2 separate regions of the Homo sapiens genome follow, and region 2 is linked to region 1. Evidence: fine-mapped expression QTL. Tissue or cell type: whole blood. Region 1 holds a variant in brackets; the other region holds the start of a gene. All regions are shown on one strand. Distances are between the middles of the regions.

Evidence for each region. PIP is the estimated chance that this variant, and not a neighbour inherited with it, causes the effect.
Region 2: HIPK1 starts here. The variant in region 1 is fine-mapped to the expression of HIPK1 in whole blood (INTERVAL, PIP above 0.99).

Annotation. Positions count from the first base shown.
Region 1 is chr1:113,972,954-113,984,189 of GRCh38, forward strand. It overlaps HIPK1 (homeodomain interacting protein kinase 1), which reads left to right. Exons shown (of 16, transcript NM_198268.3): 16 at 71-4,916. The coding sequence ends at 559. It overlaps OLFML3 (olfactomedin like 3), which reads left to right and starts at 6,521. Exons shown (of 3, transcript NM_020190.5): 1 at 6,521-6,677; 2 at 7,379-7,664; 3 at 7,996-9,300. The coding sequence starts at 6,564. The coding sequence ends at 8,816. RefSeq lists enhancers at 3,882-4,459, 5,765-6,598, 8,266-9,098, 10,354-11,236. The variant T/G (reference allele first, on the strand shown) is at 3,776.
Region 2 is chr1:113,924,005-113,934,303 of GRCh38, forward strand. It overlaps HIPK1 (homeodomain interacting protein kinase 1), which reads left to right and starts at 5,320. Exons shown (of 16, transcript NM_198268.3): 1 at 5,320-5,528. It overlaps HIPK1-AS1 (HIPK1 antisense RNA 1), which reads right to left and starts at 5,521. Exons shown (of 3, transcript NR_110726.1): 1 at 5,358-5,521; 2 at 4,240-4,384; 3 at 1-328. RefSeq lists an enhancer at 5,231-5,550 and silencers at 5,671-5,720, 5,741-6,050.

The DNA of each region.
Region 1 (11,236 bases):
TTAACTTGGCCTTTGGTGCCCTGAGCTGGAGTGACCTCAGGATTCCTCACTTCTTCCTTCTTTCTTCCAGAACCAGCAGTCATCGGCGGCTCCAACCTCACAGGAGAGAAGCAGCAACCCAGCCCCCCGCAGGCAGCAGGCGTTTGTGGCCCCTCTCTCCCAAGCCCCCTACACCTTCCAGCATGGCAGCCCGCTACACTCGACAGGGCACCCACACCTTGCCCCGGCCCCTGCTCACCTGCCAAGCCAGGCTCATCTGTATACGTATGCTGCCCCGACTTCTGCTGCTGCACTGGGCTCAACCAGCTCCATTGCTCATCTTTTCTCCCCACAGGGTTCCTCAAGGCATGCTGCAGCCTATACCACTCACCCTAGCACTTTGGTGCACCAGGTCCCTGTCAGTGTTGGGCCCAGCCTCCTCACTTCTGCCAGCGTGGCCCCTGCTCAGTACCAACACCAGTTTGCCACCCAATCCTACATTGGGTCTTCCCGAGGCTCAACAATTTACACTGGATACCCGCTGAGTCCTACCAAGATCAGCCAGTATTCCTACTTATAGTTGGTGAGCATGAGGGAGGAGGAATCATGGCTACCTTCTCCTGGCCCTGCGTTCTTAATATTGGGCTATGGAGAGATCCTCCTTTACCCTCTTGAAATTTCTTAGCCAGCAACTTGTTCTGCAGGGGCCCACTGAAGCAGAAGGTTTTTCTCTGGGGGAACCTGTCTCAGTGTTGACTGCATTGTTGTAGTCTTCCCAAAGTTTGCCCTATTTTTAAATTCATTATTTTTGTGACAGTAATTTTGGTACTTGGAAGAGTTCAGATGCCCATCTTCTGCAGTTACCAAGGAAGAGAGATTGTTCTGAAGTTACCCTCTGAAAAATATTTTGTCTCTCTGACTTGATTTCTATAAATGCTTTTAAAAACAAGTGAAGCCCCTCTTTATTTCATTTTGTGTTATTGTGATTGCTGGTCAGGAAAAATGCTGATAGAAGGAGTTGAAATCTGATGACAAAAAAAGAAAAATTACTTTTTGTTTGTTTATAAACTCAGACTTGCCTATTTTATTTTAAAAGCGGCTTACACAATCTCCCTTTTGTTTATTGGACATTTAAACTTACAGAGTTTCAGTTTTGTTTTAATGTCATATTATACTTAATGGGCAATTGTTATTTTTGCAAAACTGGTTACGTATTACTCTGTGTTACTATTGAGATTCTCTCAATTGCTCCTGTGTTTGTTATAAAGTAGTGTTTAAAAGGCAGCTCACCATTTGCTGGTAACTTAATGTGAGAGAATCCATATCTGCGTGAAAACACCAAGTATTCTTTTTAAATGAAGCACCATGAATTCTTTTTTAAATTATTTTTTAAAAGTCTTTCTCTCTCTGATTCAGCTTAAATTTTTTTATCGAAAAAGCCATTAAGGTGGTTATTATTACATGGTGGTGGTGGTTTTATTATATGCAAAATCTCTGTCTATTATGAGATACTGGCATTGATGAGCTTTGCCTAAAGATTAGTATGAATTTTCAGTAATACACCTCTGTTTTGCTCATCTCTCCCTTCTGTTTTATGTGATTTGTTTGGGGAGAAAGCTAAAAAAACCTGAAACCAGATAAGAACATTTCTTGTGTATAGCTTTTATACTTCAAAGTAGCTTCCTTTGTATGCCAGCAGCAAATTGAATGCTCTCTTATTAAGACTTATATAATAAGTGCATGTAGGAATTGCAAAAAATATTTTAAAAATTTATTACTGAATTTAAAAATATTTTAGAAGTTTTGTAATGGTGGTGTTTTAATATTTTACATAATTAAATATGTACATATTGATTAGAAAAATATAACAAGCAATTTTTCCTGCTAACCCAAAATGTTATTTGTAATCAAATGTGTAGTGATTACACTTGAATTGTGTACTTAGTGTGTATGTGATCCTCCAGTGTTATCCCGGAGATGGATTGATGTCTCCATTGTATTTAAACCAAAATGAACTGATACTTGTTGGAATGTATGTGAACTAATTGCAATTATATTAGAGCATATTACTGTAGTGCTGAATGAGCAGGGGCATTGCCTGCAAGGAGAGGAGACCCTTGGAATTGTTTTGCACAGGTGTGTCTGGTGAGGAGTTTTTCAGTGTGTGTCTCTTCCTTCCCTTTCTTCCTCCTTCCCTTATTGTAGTGCCTTATATGATAATGTAGTGGTTAATAGAGTTTACAGTGAGCTTGCCTTAGGATGGACCAGCAAGCCCCCGTGGACCCTAAGTTGTTCACCGGGATTTATCAGAACAGGATTAGTAGCTGTATTGTGTAATGCATTGTTCTCAGTTTCCCTGCCAACATTGAAAAATAAAAACAGCAGCTTTTCTCCTTTACCACCACCTCTACCCCTTTCCATTTTGGATTCTCGGCTGAGTTCTCACAGAAGCATTTTCCCCATGTGGCTCTCTCACTGTGCGTTGCTACCTTGCTTCTGTGAGAATTCAGGAAGCAGGTGAGAGGAGTCAAGCCAATATTAAATATGCATTCTTTTAAAGTATGTGCAATCACTTTTAGAATGAATTTTTTTTTCCTTTTCCCATGTGGCAGTCCTTCCTGCACATAGTTGACATTCCTAGTAAAATATTTGCTTGTTGAAAAAAACATGTTAACAGATGTGTTTATACCAAAGAGCCTGTTGTATTGCTTACCATGTCCCCATACTATGAGGAGAAGTTTTGTGGTGCCGCTGGTGACAAGGAACTCACAGAAAGGTTTCTTAGCTGGTGAAGAATATAGAGAAGGAACCAAAGCCTGTTGAGTCATTGAGGCTTTTGAGGTTTCTTTTTTAACAGCTTGTATAGTCTTGGGGCCCTTCAAGCTGTGAAATTGTCCTTGTACTCTCAGCTCCTGCATGGATCTGGGTCAAGTAGAAGGTACTGGGGATGGGGACATTCCTGCCCATAAAGGATTTGGGGAAAGAAGATTAATCCTAAAATACAGGTGTGTTCCATCTGAATTGAAAATGATATATTTGAGATATAATTTTAGGACTGGTTCTGTGTAGATAGAGATGGTGTCAAGGAGGTGCAGGATGGAGATGGGAGATTTCATGGAGCCTGGTCAGCCAGCTCTGTACCAGGTTGAACACCGAGGAGCTGTCAAAGTATTTGGAGTTTCTTCATTGTAAGGAGTAAGGGCTTCCAAGATGGGGCAGGTAGTCCGTACAGCCTACCAGGAACATGTTGTGTTTTCTTTATTTTTTAAAATCATTATATTGAGTTGTGTTTTCAGCACTATATTGGTCAAGATAGCCAAGCAGTTTGTATAATTTCTGTCACTAGTGTCATACAGTTTTCTGGTCAACATGTGTGATCTTTGTGTCTCCTTTTTGCCAAGCACATTCTGATTTTCTTGTTGGAACACAGGTCTAGTTTCTAAAGGACAAATTTTTTGTTCCTTGTCTTTTTTCTGTAAGGGACAAGATTTGTTGTTTTTGTAAGAAATGAGATGCAGGAAAGAAAACCAAATCCCATTCCTGCACCCCAGTCCAATAAGCAGATACCACTTAAGATAGGAGTCTAAACTCCACAGAAAAGGATAATACCAAGAGCTTGTATTGTTACCTTAGTCACTTGCCTAGCAGTGTGTGGCTTTAAAAACTAGAGATTTTTCAGTCTTAGTCTGCAAACTGGCATTTCCGATTTTCCAGCATAAAAATCCACCTGTGTCTGCTGAATGTGTATGTATGTGCTCACTGTGGCTTTAGATTCTGTCCCTGGGGTTAGCCCTGT[T/G]GGCCCTGACAGGAAGGGAGGAAGCCTGGTGAATTTAGTGAGCAGCTGGCCTGGGTCACAGTGACCTGACCTCAAACCAGCTTAAGGCTTTAAGTCCTCTCTCAGAACTTGGCATTTCCAACTTCTTCCTTTCCGGGTGAGAGAAGAAGCGGAGAAGGGTTCAGTGTAGCCACTCTGGGCTCATAGGGACACTTGGTCACTCCAGAGTTTTTAATAGCTCCCAGGAGGTGATATTATTTTCAGTGCTCAGCTGAAATACCAACCCCAGGAATAAGAACTCCATTTCAAACAGTTCTGGCCATTCTGAGCCTGCTTTTGTGATTGCTCATCCATTGTCCTCCACTAGAGGGGCTAAGCTTGACTGCCCTTAGCCAGGCAAGCACAGTAATGTGTGTTTTGTTCAGCATTATTATGCAAAAATTCACTAGTTGAGATGGTTTGTTTTAGGATAGGAAATGAAATTGCCTCTCAGTGACAGGAGTGGCCCGAGCCTGCTTCCTATTTTGATTTTTTTTTTTTTTAACTGATAGATGGTGCAGCATGTCTACATGGTTGTTTGTTGCTAAACTTTATATAATGTGTGGTTTCAATTCAGCTTGAAAAATAATCTCACTACATGTAGCAGTACATTATATGTACATTATATGTAATGTTAGTATTTCTGCTTTGAATCCTTGATATTGCAATGGAATTCCTACTTTATTAAATGTATTTGATATGCTAGTTATTGTGTGCGATTTAAACTTTTTTTGCTTTCTCCCTTTTTTTGGTTGTGCGCTTTCTTTTACAACAAGCCTCTAGAAACAGATAGTTTCTGAGAATTACTGAGCTATGTTTGTAATGCAGATGTACTTAGGGAGTATGTAAAATAATCATTTTAACAAAAGAAATAGATATTTAAAATTTAATACTAACTATGGGAAAAGGGTCCATTGTGTAAAACATAGTTTATCTTTGGATTCAATGTTTGTCTTTGGTTTTACAAAGTAGCTTGTATTTTCAGTATTTTCTACATAATATGGTAAAATGTAGAGCAATTGCAATGCATCAATAAAATGGGTAAATTTTCTGACTTATGTGGCTGTTTTTGACTTCTGTTATAGGATATAAAGGGGATCAATAAATGACATCTTTGAAAGTGGCTAAGCATATTGTATTTGAACATCAGTAGAGTACTAGAGACAATTTCATTCTTCACACAAATCTCCATACTGGAAATGAATAGGGTTTGGCAGGGAATACTTCCCAAGAATGCAGTGTCCAGGGTCCTTACTTCACATCATCTGGATCTGACCCTTTGAAAGAGGTAGAAGACTTCTGAGACCGGCTAATTAAGCTTTGTTTCCTCATATGTTTTGCCAGATAGCAGTAGCAGAATGAAAAGATGAGTAACCACAGGAAGCTGCTATTTTTCCCCTCCTTTCAAACTGTACTGTTAGAGTCATGGTCCTTTTTACAGAAGGAACCTCTCATCAGATTCTGTTGATTCTAAAGTGAATAGAATTTCTCCCGATAAAGAAATAGGGGTTTGTTTCGATTAATGACTGCAGGTCTCTGAGTAAATGCTCTATTTGATTTTTTTTTTCGGCCCGTGTGTCTACCTTATGGCCCAAGTCTACCTTATGGTGGCCATTAATTCATTTTGGGCTCCTGCAGCCTTAGTTGGGATATAGAAATGAGAAACACTCAGAAATACCCTTTTGGACCACAACCAAGAGAAATAACCAATAGTCTTTTCTCCCAGTGGTAAGGAAGTCAGAATACATTGATCTAGACTGCAACAACATATATATATATATCAGATTCCGCCCCCCCGCAATACATGAATGTATAGTAAATTAGTGTGAACTCACTGAACACTCCTCAGTTTTGGTGAGAGACTATATCTGGCCTCTTTCAAGCAAAGGAAAGCCATGTAAAACAGCGCTGCTGTCAGCCTTAACTTCCAGACGATCGAGTTAATTTACTAACTTCTCAGTGACCTGTTTTTTTTTTTTTTTTAATCTCAGTTATATTTTCTTCCTTGGGCTAAATCAGATATTTGCATAGCCCCCAAAGTAGTAATTGGATAGTCTTGGGGGAAATATGCATTTCAGTGGTGAAAACCCCTGTAAATTCAATATATTTGGCTTTTGTGGAAAATTTTCCTCATGGGGTGAAGTCTAAGCCTTAGTTTCTGTATTATCATGAGAGATGACACCAGCTGCTTAGCACAAGGTGGCGCCAATGAGCTTTAGAATAAGTTGGGCTTGACCACTTGGGCCATTGTTTTCCTGCTTCCTCCCTTCAAGCCTCACCTCCCCAGCTCCCAGCTTCTACTGAACAAGGCTGAAAACCCACTCTATTGCAGGGAAAGGGAAAGATTAATGAAAAATGTCAGTTTCTTAAGTCAGCACTGGTGAAACTTTCCTAAAACAGGAATGGCGTTTGCTGAGTTTTCTCTGGGGTCTCTGCTTTCTGCAGCTAGCTTCCCTGCTTGACTGCCTAGAAGGCCTCTGCTTTCGGGTTTCCATCTCTTTCCCCTCCAGAGGACCCTACAGCCTAGGCGGGAGGTGGTTAAGGCTTCTGGCTGCTGTGCAATGGGGCCATCTGTGTTTGATCAATCCTGGCGGAAAGGAGGGGGTGGGGGTTGTAAAGAGAACTGAAAGCATTCCAGAGTAGTGAGAGAGACCCAGAGATCAGGAGAGAAGGCACCGCCCCCACCCCGCCTCCAAAGCTAACCCTCGGGCTTGAGGGGAAGAGGCTGACTGTACGTTCCTTCTACTCTGGCACCACTCTCCAGGCTGCCATGGGGCCCAGCACCCCTCTCCTCATCTTGTTCCTTTTGTCATGGTCGGGACCCCTCCAAGGACAGCAGCACCACCTTGTGGAGTACATGGAACGCCGACTAGCTGCTTTAGAGGTGAGGGACCCCTTTCTCTTCTAGCCCCGCCTAGAAGGATTCCAGGGCTATTGGTTCAACCAGTTTGTTAGGGATCTGGGGATAACAAGAAAGGGCTCTGTTAGAGTCTACAGAAAATTCTCTCTTAATAAGAGGACCTTCGGAATGACAAGCCCTCCTCTTACCCCACATAGAACAATTCCAAAGCAAATCGACTTTTGCGTTTTACCTCTGGGATTAGATAGAATAAGGGGGCAGAGTGGAAACGAGAGCCAAAATTGTGGGGCTGCATCTCCAGAGAAGGTGATGATTCTGTTGAAGTTGGAGGTTCCCGGGGAATCTATAACTTCCTGTCTTTTTAACAGGTTGAGATCCGTAGCATTTTAGTGTCCGAGAGGATAATTGCTAAGGGAGCAGAGACCTCTTCACACCTTCATGCGCTTAGACCTGCCTAGAGGCTCAGATGGCTCAGTGGCACTGCTCACAGAGAACACAGGCTGGAGGACATGGAGTCGGGGTAGGGGCCTAGGTGAATCTCAGCTAGGCTCTTTGCACATTTAGCACCTCTGCACATCTGGTTTCCTTTTCTGCAGGAGTGGAAGGGGATATTGAAGCCTGGCTGAGTTTGCTCTTTTTTTCCCATTCCTGACTCCCGAGTTGGGCCTCTCCCTGCCTGGGAGTTGTAACCCTGCAGCCTCCCTCCTGATCCCCCATCCCTTCAGGAACGGCTGGCCCAGTGCCAGGACCAGAGTAGTCGGCATGCTGCTGAGCTGCGGGACTTCAAGAACAAGATGCTGCCACTGCTGGAGGTGGCAGAGAAGGAGCGGGAGGCACTCAGAACTGAGGCCGACACCATCTCCGGGAGAGTGGATCGTCTGGAGCGGGAGGTAGACTATCTGGAGACCCAGAACCCAGCTCTGCCCTGTGTAGAGTTTGATGAGAAGGTGACTGGAGGCCCTGGGACCAAAGGCAAGGGAAGAAGGAATGAGAAGTACGATATGGTGACAGGTAAATAATCTGAAAGCAGGCCCCTAACTCTTCTCAGAACCGATATTCTTCCTTCCTTGCTTCTTACTCTTTTTTTCGCTTTGTCCCAGTCCATTGTGGCTCTGTCTTCTGGAATCTGTTTTAGGGAAACCTCTGTAATGCCAGGTCTATTAAGGAGAGGTTCTGGGGATCCAGGCCGCTGTGGTACCCGCTCTTTCTCAATTCTCCCTAAGATTGGAGGCAACCACTGGGCAAATGCTCACTATTCTCCAGATCACCCACCCTGGGGGAGTTCCTGCTGGAGGCATCTAATTCTTGCCTCTATTTCCTTTTCCTGTGCTTTTCTCATCAGACTGTGGCTACACAATCTCTCAAGTGAGATCAATGAAGATTCTGAAGCGATTTGGTGGCCCAGCTGGTCTATGGACCAAGGATCCACTGGGGCAAACAGAGAAGATCTACGTGTTAGATGGGACACAGAATGACACAGCCTTTGTCTTCCCAAGGCTGCGTGACTTCACCCTTGCCATGGCTGCCCGGAAAGCTTCCCGAGTCCGGGTGCCCTTCCCCTGGGTAGGCACAGGGCAGCTGGTATATGGTGGCTTTCTTTATTTTGCTCGGAGGCCTCCTGGAAGACCTGGTGGAGGTGGTGAGATGGAGAACACTTTGCAGCTAATCAAATTCCACCTGGCAAACCGAACAGTGGTGGACAGCTCAGTATTCCCAGCAGAGGGGCTGATCCCCCCCTACGGCTTGACAGCAGACACCTACATCGACCTGGCAGCTGATGAGGAAGGTCTTTGGGCTGTCTATGCCACCCGGGAGGATGACAGGCACTTGTGTCTGGCCAAGTTAGATCCACAGACACTGGACACAGAGCAGCAGTGGGACACACCATGTCCCAGAGAGAATGCTGAGGCTGCCTTTGTCATCTGTGGGACCCTCTATGTCGTCTATAACACCCGTCCTGCCAGTCGGGCCCGCATCCAGTGCTCCTTTGATGCCAGCGGCACCCTGACCCCTGAACGGGCAGCACTCCCTTATTTTCCCCGCAGATATGGTGCCCATGCCAGCCTCCGCTATAACCCCCGAGAACGCCAGCTCTATGCCTGGGATGATGGCTACCAGATTGTCTATAAGCTGGAGATGAGGAAGAAAGAGGAGGAGGTTTGAGGAGCTAGCCTTGTTTTTTGCATCTTTCTCACTCCCATACATTTATATTATATCCCCACTAAATTTCTTGTTCCTCATTCTTCAAATGTGGGCCAGTTGTGGCTCAAATCCTCTATATTTTTAGCCAATGGCAATCAAATTCTTTCAGCTCCTTTGTTTCATACGGAACTCCAGATCCTGAGTAATCCTTTTAGAGCCCGAAGAGTCAAAACCCTCAATGTTCCCTCCTGCTCTCCTGCCCCATGTCAACAAATTTCAGGCTAAGGATGCCCCAGACCCAGGGCTCTAACCTTGTATGCGGGCAGGCCCAGGGAGCAGGCAGCAGTGTTCTTCCCCTCAGAGTGACTTGGGGAGGGAGAAATAGGAGGAGACGTCCAGCTCTGTCCTCTCTTCCTCACTCCTCCCTTCAGTGTCCTGAGGAACAGGACTTTCTCCACATTGTTTTGTATTGCAACATTTTGCATTAAAAGGAAAATCCACTGCTCCTCTCCTGTGTTTGTTTGGGGTAGCCCTCAGATCAAACTTCCCCCTGACCATCCAGTTTCTCCCTCCCAACCCATCCCCACTCCTTGAGCCATATTAAAGACTTGGGCGGGGCTCCCTTTGCTGAGGAAGAGTTTACTGTGAGGCGCCTGGGGGAGGTGGCAGAATCCCGCCACTTTAGGAGGCTGGACGAAAGGCCTCCTTCCACACCCACCGCCATCCACAGCAGCCAATCCACAGCAGCCATCCTAGAACCTCAGTGGCACCGTGCCTCTGGCTGTGAGACACTGGGGCCCAGGGCAGAGATTCCAGTTCCGATTCTCAGAGGATTTTGAACTACAAAATGCATGTTAGTTGCATTGCATTCTAGTGTGGAAACCAGAGCCCTGAATGCCTGTGTTTTTAGTAAGAACTGAAGTCTCCCCTCTAAAGTGGACTCTGCCCCGCACCCCAGACCTCCACTCCCACCTCCAGCGTTGTGCTCCTGCAGGGCCAGGTTGCACAATCATTCTTGGTCTGGACCGCTCTGATTTTCCTGCTGCCACGGCGTCTGCGGTTTGTGCAGGGAGGAGGGGCAGTGACCGTGTCCCAGATGTTGGCCTTACACGGTCTGCAGCCTATTCTTGCTTTCCTTTTCTCCACTCTCATCACCCTCACCTACCCACTCCAGCCCTGAACCTGGCTGAAGCCCGTCAGGACTTCTGGAAACTTAACCCTCTCTGGCCCATACCCTGGCCTCTGGCGTTGGATTGCAGAGCGTAATGTGGGGAAGAGGGAAGGGAGAAGGGAGAGGAGGAGGAAGGCTCCAGGCTTTGGACTCCAGTCTCCAGGAATCTGCTGATTTCTGCACCAGGCCCCCACCCCAGCCTCACCCTCACTGCTGCATGCTCAGCTCGCAGGGGCAAGGCTGGCTGATGGGCAGGATCCACTGCTTTCATGAGGAGTCCACCTCAGGCATGCCTGGGGGTCCTCTTGGTTATTTGCTCTAGCCAAGTGCGGGAAGGGGGCACAGCCTTCTCCCCAAAGCACAGCCCTCCTTCCCGCCCCAGGTGGGGTGGCTCAGTCAGGGCCCTGTGAGCCTCCCTTTATCTTCTTTTCTTTTCTCCTCAGGCAGAGCTGCTCCAGACGTAGGTTGATGAGGATGGGGAAAGAAAGACAGTGAAGCACCTCAGAAAGGCGCTATTATAGGGAGACCGGGGCGGGCAGGGGCTCTCTCCCATTGAATTCTCTCCTAATGTGGGGCTGGCAACAGTAATCACCACCTGTCAGCCCACGGAAGGGTCTGCCCACAGAACAGCTGGCTGCGGCACACGTGGTGCACAGGGAGGGGTTGAGGGGGAAGGGCATTCTGAGCACAGGCCTGGAGAATGGGGTCTGGGCCACACGGCTGGCAGAGCAGTGTGGGGACTGTGGGTGCCCCATGTGGAAGGGGAGCTTGTCTGCTCCCTAGCGTGACTGTGTGTGTGTGTGTGTGTGTGTGTGTTGGGGGTGGGAGGTGCCTGTGTGTGGCAGAGGTGCTTGTCTGCTCCCTAGTGTGACTGCGTATGTGTACGTGTATGTGTATATGTGCCTGCATGTGGCAGGGGAGCTTGTCTGCTAGCTTGTGTGGCTGTATGAGTGTGTGATAGGAGGCTGTAGGGTCAGGCCGTGTCTCTGGAGTTACCTTGTTAGAGCACCAAACACCAGGAGCGGCTCTGATGCCCTTGATGAGAGCATAACCTGAGACTCCGTGTGTATAAGTGACGTCAAGGAATATGTATTTGAAGTACATTCTTAACGCCTTATTACTTCCATGAAAATCAGGTAACCAGGTTCTTCCGCGTTGCATGTGTGTGCTTGTCTTTGTGGCATCTATCTTTGCCTGATTCCTCCTCCATGAGAAAGAAAAAAAGCATATCTTTTTTTGGCTTACAATTTCTGTGGAAAAGTTCATTCAG
Region 2 (10,299 bases), 49 kb before region 1:
GCTTCCTTTTTTTTATTTAGGTAAAATCGACATATTACTAAACATTTTAAAGTGGACAGTTAGTGCATTTAGTGCATTCACAATGCTGTGCAGCCATCAGCATGCTCTAGTTTCACCTCCCCTTTCATTTATTAGGAAAGCTTGTATTCAAATCTTCTTTAATCCCATAATATGCCCATTCATCCAAACTCCTGTTCCATTATTCCATCATTTCTGCTAGGACCCAGTCCCCAAAATGTCCATTATTCTAACCCCTGTCACTCTCATGCTAGATATTGTCCTTCATGAAACCAGATGAGGGGCCAGAACAACTTTTCCTGGTTTATACCTGTGAGAAGAGAAGTGATAGAGAATGTAGTCAAAATGATTCATTTCATAACTTCTCAGATGTAGCTGATGTGGACCCAAGCAGATTCCTTGGATATTGAGAGCTGAATATGGGTATTGACCAGAATAGATTCTACCATTCAGCTGGACCAGGCCATTCTTCCCAGATTGTCAGTCACCACTCATACTATGAGTAATCCTATATAGGAACCACACAGCTTCTGCCCAAACTATGCCACTAAAACCGCTCTCTCGAAGATCAAATACTATCTCTCTCTCTCTCTCTCTCTCTCTCTCTCCCTCTCTCAGAGATGGGAGTAGTGGCTCTCACCAATATCAGTAATATCTATCTATCTATCTATCTATCTATCTATCTATCTATCTATCTATCCATCCATCCATCCATCCATGTATCTAATCTATCTACCTTAGAGATGGGGGTCTCAATATGTTGCCCAGGCTGGATTTGAACTCCTGGGCTCAAGCAATCCTCCTGCCTCAGCCTCCTGAGAAGCTGGGACTATAAGCACATGCCATCATGGACCAGCTAGCAGTGACCTTTCCATAAGCCCCTGAGGTATGGGGATTGTTTGCTACACAAGTTAGCTAAACCTAACTATTCATTTGAATAGGCAACGGACAGTGTCTGCCAAATTTCCCTATGCAAGCTTTCTCTGCTAAGGATACTCAAAAGGAGTCTTAAGAGAAAAATCTTGGTAATACCTAAGGCTTGCAACCTGAGGAAAGGGATGAGCAGGGAGGCTGAAGGGCTGATATTCACATACAAGCATTCAGTAATAAATCACTGTGGGCCTAATGCTCAGATCTTTTTTTTTTGGTCGGGGGGACAGAGTCTTGCTCTGTTGCCCAGGCTGGAGTGCAGTGGCATGATCTTGGCTCACTGAAACCTCCGCCTCCCGGGTTCAAGCAATTCTCTGCCTCAGCCTCCCAAGTAGCTGGGATTACAGGCACCTGCCACCGCGCCTGGCTAATTTTTGTATTTTTAGTAGAGATGGGGTTTCACCATCTTGGCCAGGCTGGTCTTGAGCTCCTGACCTTGCAATCTACCCACCTTGGCCTCCCAAAGTGCTGGGATTACAGGCGTGAGCCACCACGCCCAGCCATGAAGAACATTTTATTACCCCTTACCAGAAAAAGTCCTGTATTCTTCAAAAATATTAAAGACAAAGAAAAGCTGAGGAACTGTGCCAGATTAAAGAACACTAAAGAGACATGACAATTAAATGTAATATATGATCCTAAACTGGATCTTGTGCTGGAAAATAAAAAAAATGCTAAGAATGATGTTATTTGATCAACTGACAACATTTGGAACATGGATGGTAAAGTATTACAGCAATGTTAAATTTCCTGGAGTTGTTAATTGTATGTATTTTGTTTACATAAGAGAATGTACTTATTAGGATATTCAAGTATTATGTGGTAAAGGAGGATGATGCATGCGATTTACTTTTAACTGCTTGGAAAAAAAAATATGTACGTGGGCTGGGCACGGTGGCTCACACCTATAATCTTAGCACTTTGGGAGGCTGAGGTGGGTGGATTGCCTGAGTTCAGGAGTTCAAGACCAGCCTGGGTAACACGGTGAAACCCCGTCTCTACTAAAATACAAAAAAATTAGTCAGGTGTGACAGCGGGCACCTGTAATCCCAGCTACTCGGGAGGCTGAGACAGGAGAATCGCTTAAACCCAGGAGGTGGAGGTTGCAGTGAGCCGAGATCATGCCACTGCACTCCAGCCTAGGTGACAGAGTGAGACTCTGTCTAAAAAAAAAAAAAAAAAAAAAAAAAAAAAAGGCATGTATGTGTGTAATATAACTCTATCTATCTATAACTGCAAATGATAAAGCAAAAGGGGCAAGATGTTAATAATCTGGGTCCTCTTTTTGTCACTCTTGCAACATATCTGTATGTTTAACATTATTTCCAAATAAAAAGTATTCTGGGGTCTGGATTTTTAAAAAATCATTGAGGTTCTCCTCCTGTTGGCTCAAGGGACTTTTCTGCTTTTTATCGTTTACTGCAGACCTTCACTCTAATCTGGTTTTCCCAGTTTCACAACCTGTTGGCTTCTATTTAAATTCTCTTTTTTTTCCTAGCCCCTAGGATTCACTATTTGTTTGAATAGTTTGCCTAGCTTTTTGGTTCAGCTTCTCTCAAGACACAGCCTTCTCATCAGCTTCTCCTATTTGGCCTTAAGCACTGCCGCTCTTGGGCAAATGACTTCTTGCCTGCAACACTGAATCTAGGCTGTAGGCCCTAGAAGGATGTCATACCCTGAATGAAACTTGAATGCTTCCGATTGCTAACTGCTCCACCTCCCTCTCCAGTTGCTCTGACTTGGTTTAGGAGGATGTATTTCACATATCTGCCCCTTCTCGCCTTCTTTCCTGTGTAATCAAACCCTCATCATAGTTTTCTGATTAGGATCCCTTTCTCCAGTCTTTACCCACTCCAGCTAGCCCTCTTCCTTCACCATCACTAGTTCTCTCTCACATTACCTGTCTGAATAAACTTCTTTTTTGAGACAGAGTCTGGCTCTGTTTGCCCAGCCTAGACTGCAGTGGCACGATCTCGGCTCACTGCAACCTCTGCCTCCCGGATTCAAGCGATTCTCCTGCCTCAGCCTCCCGAGTAGCTGGGATTACAAGCATATGCCACCATATCTGGCTAATTTTTGTATTTGTAGTAGAGATGGGGTTTCACTGTGTTGGCCAGGCTGGTCTTGAACTCCTGACCTCCAGTGATCTGCCACCTTGGCTTCCCAAAGTGCTGGGATTACAGGCATGAGCCACTGTGCCTGGCTACCTGTGCGAATAAACTTCTAACAGCTCTACATTGCCTTTCAAAATCTGACTCAATTTACCTTACTACTTCCAAATCGTGCAACTTCTCTGCTTAACTGTAAGCTCCTTCAGGGCACAGACCATGCCTTTTCTTCTGTGTATCCTTAATTTCTTTTTTTTTTATTTCTTTCTTTCTTTCTTTTTTTTTTTTTTGAGACAGAGTCTCACTGTCGCCCAGGCTGGAGTGCAATGGTGCAATCTCGGCTCATGGTAGCCTTCTTCTCCTGGGTTCCAGCGGTTCTTCTGCTTAAGCCTCCAGGGTAGCTGGGATTACAGGCATGCGCCACTACACTTGGCTAATGTTTGTATTTTTAGTAGAGACGGGGTTTCACCATGTTGGCCAGGCTGGTCTCGAACTCCTGACCTCAGGTGATTCACCTGCCTCAGCCTCCCGAAGTGCTGGGATTACAGGCATGAGCCACCACACCCAGCCCCTTAATTTCTTATATAGTGCCTAGCACACAGAAGATGCTCTATAAATAGTTACTGAATGGACAAATGACTAAACTTTGAAACTTCTTTGACCTTACTATGCTCAAATATCACTTCTGATGTTCTTCTCCGACTCTCTCACTTATCTTATATATGTCTGCACACGTTTTTTCCTCATTAGACTGTAAGGTCCCTGAGGGAAAAGACCATGCTTTATTCACCTGTCTCATTCATACCTGACCCAGTGTCTAGAAGAGTGTATAGCACAGAGCAGGCACACAAGCAGTTTGCTGGATGAATGAGTGAATGATACTAAAGAGGAGAAAATACAGACTTTAAGAAGCTCTCCGTATAGTGAGAAAGACTGAGGACCTAAGAGCAATGAAAATAGAAGTTAACAAGTATAAATAAAGAAGGTACAGGTTAATTTAAGTAATCAGATGATGATGCAGAATTCAAATAAAATAGGAGTCAATCAGCAAAGGTTCCCGAAAGGGTGAATTCTGAGAGATATTTGAAAAGAGGAAAGGGACATAACTTGAGAGAGCAGGAGTTTAGGAACATGTCAGAGAGTTAGGTTGAACCAAGGCATGATAAACATGTTTGAAGCTTACATTCTGAGCAGGATCTGTTCTACCCAGACCACAGGTTTCTGCCTTTTTTTCTGGCTCATCAAGCAGGCATGTTTACCCACTCTTTTTATCTTCATGTTTCCCAGGTCAGCCCAATGTGAGGACTTTAAGTAGTAGAAGGAAGTTTCTGTGAAAATATGCAAACAAAACTGCCTTGTGGGATCGAACATTTTTGGTAACCCTAGTTCTCTAGGGAAATAAACTTCCCTGTTCCAGATAAAATGGAACTGCTCCCCGTGTTGTTAAGCCAGAGAGAAAGCCAAATGACTTCCCTTAAAAGGTACTTCAGCGCATTTTACACAAATCATAGTTTTCTGTGTGTGTTATGGGGATCCAAGGAAATCAAAGATGTTAATGAGTGAGATTTGAGAAACAAAACTTGATAGTAGAATTTTGTCTTAGCCACAACTGCCCTTCTCCTCACAGAGTATATGCAAATACCGATGGTGACGGACAGTCACTTTCTAGAGCTCAGATCACTGCTGCCTCCAGCACTTGTGGGATGGAAAAAATGAAGAAATTACAGTTGCCCTAAAAATGTCCCCCACTTCAGGAACCTGAATATTTTACACAGCAGGAGATACATCGGAAGTCCTACAGAATCTCTTGACTTTGGGAGATGCAACTGCTTTTCTATTAGGATAACCTAATTTTCTGTGTCCATTTTCTCAGAATGTTGTGCCCAACGCGTTCTGTTTCCTAAATACCCAGCCTTCCTTCTGGTAGAGGCAAGAAAATTATGCTAGCATTCGCTCACTGCATGTTTTGAGCGTTTGAGTTCAGAGTACAGCTATTCTCTCTCCTCGTAATGTAAACACAGGTTCCCACGGCGGCAATGGGAGACTCCCCTAAGGGGCTCTTGACGTACAGGGAGACTTCCAGATATGGTACACAGATGTCACATTGCTAGAACGTCTCTAGACGGCAACGAAACATTAAAGCCTAACCTGAGGTAATCCCTCACCGGCAGTGAAGCTCCTCTGCTAGGCACTGTCGTCCCGTACACTGCCCAAGCTCTGGGGGTGTCACACTAAACTGTGGTGATGTCACACTAGCTGGGATGACATTTTACAGTTGGATCCCGTACCACCGCCAGGCACCTTTAAATCACCGCAGAGTCTGCAGTGCGGAGGGGGCGGGAAGTCCAGGCCCCGCACTCGATCCACGCTGGCTCCCTACGGAGGCCCACCTACTCGAGGCCCACCGACTCCTACTGCAATCAGTACTATGCGATCGTCCTAGAGAGTCCATTCAGCTGCACTTCCGCCTCAGTAGGTGTCATGGCGCGGGGCGGGTGAATAGTTCCGGCGAGGCGGGGCCGGCCGGGTTGAGGGACGGCCGCTCGGCATTCCGTTCGTCGGGTCTGGCGACAACGGCGGCTGCGGAGCAAGGGGCCCGGCGGTAGCCCCGGACGGCAGCAGGAGGCCGAGGCGGGAGCGCGCGGGGCTGAGGCGGCGGCGGCGGCGGCGGGAAGGGGCTGGGTGGTGGAGCGGGAGGGAGGCTGAGGAGGCTCCCCCTGCGGGACGGGCGCGGGGACGGCTCCGGGGGGCGGGGGCCGGGGCCCGGGCCGGCTCGCGCGGGGGGTATGATGACCCGGCTGCGGGGCCCCAGATCTCGTCTCCTCCGCCGCCTCCTCACGGCAGCCCCAGCTCGCGGCTGAGAACCAGACACACCGGCGGTGAGTGGGGACGGGCAGGAGGGGTCCTCGGCGGGGAGCGACTTCCCCTCAGCTCCCTGAGGCGGGGCCGGGCCGGCCGCCGGCTCTCCTGGAGCGCCCAGCCTGCCGGGGGCGCCTTCCTCAAAGGGCCCCTGCCTGGGACCGGGCGCCGCGTCTTGCGGCCCGGCCGCTCACTGCCGCTGAGGGGATTGCCTTCCCAGGAAGGTGGGGAGGCTCCGGGCTGGTTTTCGGGGCAACTCCCCCTGCCTCCTGCCACTTCTCGCCTGGGCGTGTTGTCCTTAAGTGACAGGGGACCGCCTTGCGTCTCCTCACTCGGCCGGTTTTTTCCCCGGCTGTCGTGGCAGGTTCCCAGTGTGTGGCTTGTGCGTGTGTACTTCACAGCTCCGCTTATCACCATGGTTTTGGGTTATTTGTGCTGTTTGGGACCAGGAAGCCGTGCCTGGAGAGGACGACAGTGGGGTGGGTGTGGAAGCTTTTCTGTCGTCTCCGCTGATGTTCTGTAGTCGTTAGGCTTGTAATTCGTAATGACGGTGGAGACTACGTGAGACCAGCCCACCTAATGTATATCTGTACAAGGGAGATCTAGAGGTCTGGCCCAAAGGGAAACTTTTGCTGCCACCACTTTCAAAGCTTTCGTTAAAAAAACAAAAGGGAGGGGGAAGGTGGAGAAACAACCAAAATTCTGGTAAGGCCCACACTGTTCACAGGTCTGTGGGGAAGAGTCCCCTTTTTGTGCTTAGCAACCAAGACGTGGAGTTCCGTCTCCAGGAGCGTTGGTCTAACCTCCAGTTTGTTGTGGTGACGAGCTGTGAGCAATGGCCTGTGTTTATGCTGGGCGAGCTTTCTTTCCTACTTGGGGAGGGGGGTTCAGGATGGGAGGATGCGGGTAGGGAAGAGGGGGGGAAAACCCCCAAGCTCCAGTAAGTCTTTTCTTTACTTAATCACTGATTCTGTTGTAGGTAGACTCATTTAGAGGCAGTCCTAGATGCTCTTTCTTGTCTATTAGTGACACTTTGGGAATTCTCAGTAATTGCATCAACATAATACTTTCAGCTATAGACTCTCTGTCCCAATCTGTCCTTTATCTTGTTTCTTAGTAACTGGTGAAAACAGCAGTGTGGCTTCCCGCTCTTGATGAAATAGGGTTAAATTAAGTGGCTGATGCCCTCAGCAAACCTACAATTTTCCTTTTGTTTGTGTAAAGCTATTTTTGATCTCTGGTCTGTGGGTTTTTTTTTTTTTTTTGTAAGATTATAGAGAATGCAAACTATTACTAGCTTTTTTCATATGGAAGCCTAAAGCTTTCTATAAAACATTTTAAAATCTAACAAATCATTTGACCTAATTTTCATTATTCAGCTGGTGATTTTGGATCTTTACATGTAATTATCTCAGGGTTCTGTGTTATAATACTGTTATGATGAAGGGTGGCATTGACTTTAAGATACTGTTCCTGGCTTGAAAGATATTTTAGTAAAGTACTTGCGGTTGGAACTGGAGGCAGCCAAGCCAGTAAAGTATCTTAGAATAAAATGGTGAATGAGATCTTATAAATATACTGGCTCTGGTTGGCAAGTAGAACTTTTGCTGGTGATACCTTCATGAATAGTTTATCTCTCGACACTGTAGTTTTGTGGTTTTTTGAGCAAGTTCGTTGGTAACTTGAGACTTCAAACCAAACCAGAACTTCCTTCTAAAAGAAAAAAAAAGAAGAGATAATCTCAAAGTTCACAATTCTTTGGAAAATAAACTTCTTTCATTCTGTGCTTTTGTTTTTATAAGCACAGCTCCATCAATGATTTGTTGGTACAAATCAGTGAGTCATACCGGCCTTGTAAAGTTCTTACACTTGGAACTTGTGCAGCTTGTTAGTTATATATTGTAACTGGTCTTGTAATTTGAAGTAATTTTGCAAACATGAGCTGCTTGATCTGCCACCTGCATGAGTGTATAACAGCAGTCTGTATTTTTTAGGTCTTTTTAAAAAAAATTTACTATTATTCCTCCCGTTATCTTCCCTTCCTCTCCCTTTGTGCCATTCTGAACACAAGTCATCAAGATTATTTTCCTTTAAGTACCACTTCAACAATCACTGGTTTGTCTTTTGGTTCCTTTTGTTTTTGTTCCTGATCTTCCCTTTAGTTGTTGGAACCCAGCTCCTAAATGCCTAATATATTCCTGTAGTGCATAATTTGGCACTTGAAAAATTTACATCCTGTTTTCATATTTTTCTTTCTTTTTCATGTGTTATATCATTTCAGCAACATTTTAAGTTTTTTGAAGGTAAGGAAACTTACATTTCTTTTAGATTCTTTAAGGGTACCTGGTACAGTGCTTTCCCAGAGTGCTTAAGGAAAAAGAATGAGAAGACCTTTGCCAGCATTGCTACTCATTAGCGCTGGGTAAAACTCGTTTGGCCTTTTTGGATCTGTTTTTTTTTTTTTTTTTTTTTATTTGAGACAAGATCTCGCCCTGTCGCCCAGGTCGGAGTGCCGTGGTGGGTTCAGGCTGGAGTGCAGTGGTGGGTTCAAGTGATTCTCATACCTCTGCCTCCTAAGTAGCTAGGACTACAGGCACTACAGGCACGCACCACCATGCCTGGCTAATATTTGTATTTTTAGTAGAGATAGGGTTTTGCCATGTTGGCCAGGCTGGTCTCAGACTCCTGACCTCAAGTGATCCACCTGCCTCGGCCTCCCAAAGTGCTGAGATTACAGGCGTGAGCCACCATGCCTGGCCTGGATCGCCTTTTTCTCATCTCGGAATTAGGGGGTTTTAGAATCTTTAAGGTCCCTTTTATCTGTAAGAGTTCCAGTACTTTTTTGCTAGTGTCTTCTGCTCCAGTTAAATATATCTCCTTACTCTACACGGTTTTTTATTTTTCCACATCCTTTGGCATACTAGCATAGCAAAAGTCATCTCATTCTTCTGAAAGAGCCTCCTCCATCTTCCATTCTCCAAACTGCTGTTGCCTTACTTAAGTCCCGTTTTCCTTCAGCCTTTGCTGGCATATTGTTTATGTTTCATATTGATCTCTGCTTTGTTAATTTTAACTTTTTCTTATCCTGGAAACTCCTCAAGGTATAGTTTTCTTAATTCTAAGCTTTATAGACCTATAGACTGTTATGTGCAGGTACTAAAATGTAGTACCTTTTTACTAAACACAAAGCACTTACTTTTCTTTTGTTCTGTTGCCGTAGTCATTCCAAATAAATCTAAGTGAACTATTGATTTTGATACAAAGCAACAGCCTCTGCCACACTGAAGAAGTGAGCTTTAAGCAGAGACTAGAAGGGTAAGTAAAAGTTAGGAAAAGAAAAGCCTAAGGGGGAAAATGAAGTTCAGAGAGGAAACATGTTGAAGGAACTAGGGCCAGAGAAGGCAAGGTCTATTGTGGGAACCCAGAGAGACTTGGTAGTATTGGAAGAGAAAGTGCCTGGGGAAAAGCGCAGATGAAACAAGGCTGTGCAAGTAATCGTGGTCCAGATCTTGCAAGGCCTGGTAATCCAAATTAGGAATTTTGGTGTTTGTCCTAAGGTTTTAAGTGGGGGATAGGTACACTTTTTTTTTTTCAGATGTGCATTTTTAAAAGCTTCAGTTGAGAGGTGAATAATGAATTGGGAGAGGGGAGCTTAGAAAAGGGGCTTGAGGCCAGCATCGTGGCTCACACCTGTAATCCCAGCACTTTTGGAGGCTGAGGTAGGTGGATCACTTTAGGAGTCTGAGACCAGCCTGAGCAACATGGTGAAACCCTGTCTCTACAAAAAATACAAAAAAATTAGCTGGGCGTGGTGGCATGTACTGGTAGTCCCAGTTACTCGGGAGGCTGAGGTAGGAGGGTGGATTGAGCCCTGGAGGTCCAGGCTGCAGTGAACGAACCATGATCGTGTACTGCACTCCGGTCTGGGTGACAGAGTCTCAAATAAAGGGGGGAAGTTGAGAGTACAATTTGGAGGAAACCAGTTAAGCTGTTTAAGTATGGGATTGTGCAGTAGGGGTGGAGAAAACTTAGGAGAGTAGAGAGAGATTTAGGTGTTCTGTTGGGAAGAATTTTCTTCCCAAACTTGTCTCACTTTGTTTTTACAGAAGATGTACTCTTATCATCTGTAAAAAATATGTATCAGAGTATGTGATAGACAATATGTATACCTGTGTTCATGTCATCTGAGGATAAGTGCTGGAGCAAGAAATCAATATATAGTACAGTTTTTAGGTCATTTGGCTAACCAGCTGTTAAATTGTATGAAAGAGGCAAAGATAACATTGAGCAAAAGCAACAGGAATTTATTACTGGTGTGTCAGGAAAAAGGTTACTGAGGGGTAAGGACAAATCAATGGAAAATGATTACCTGGGTTGTCTTATC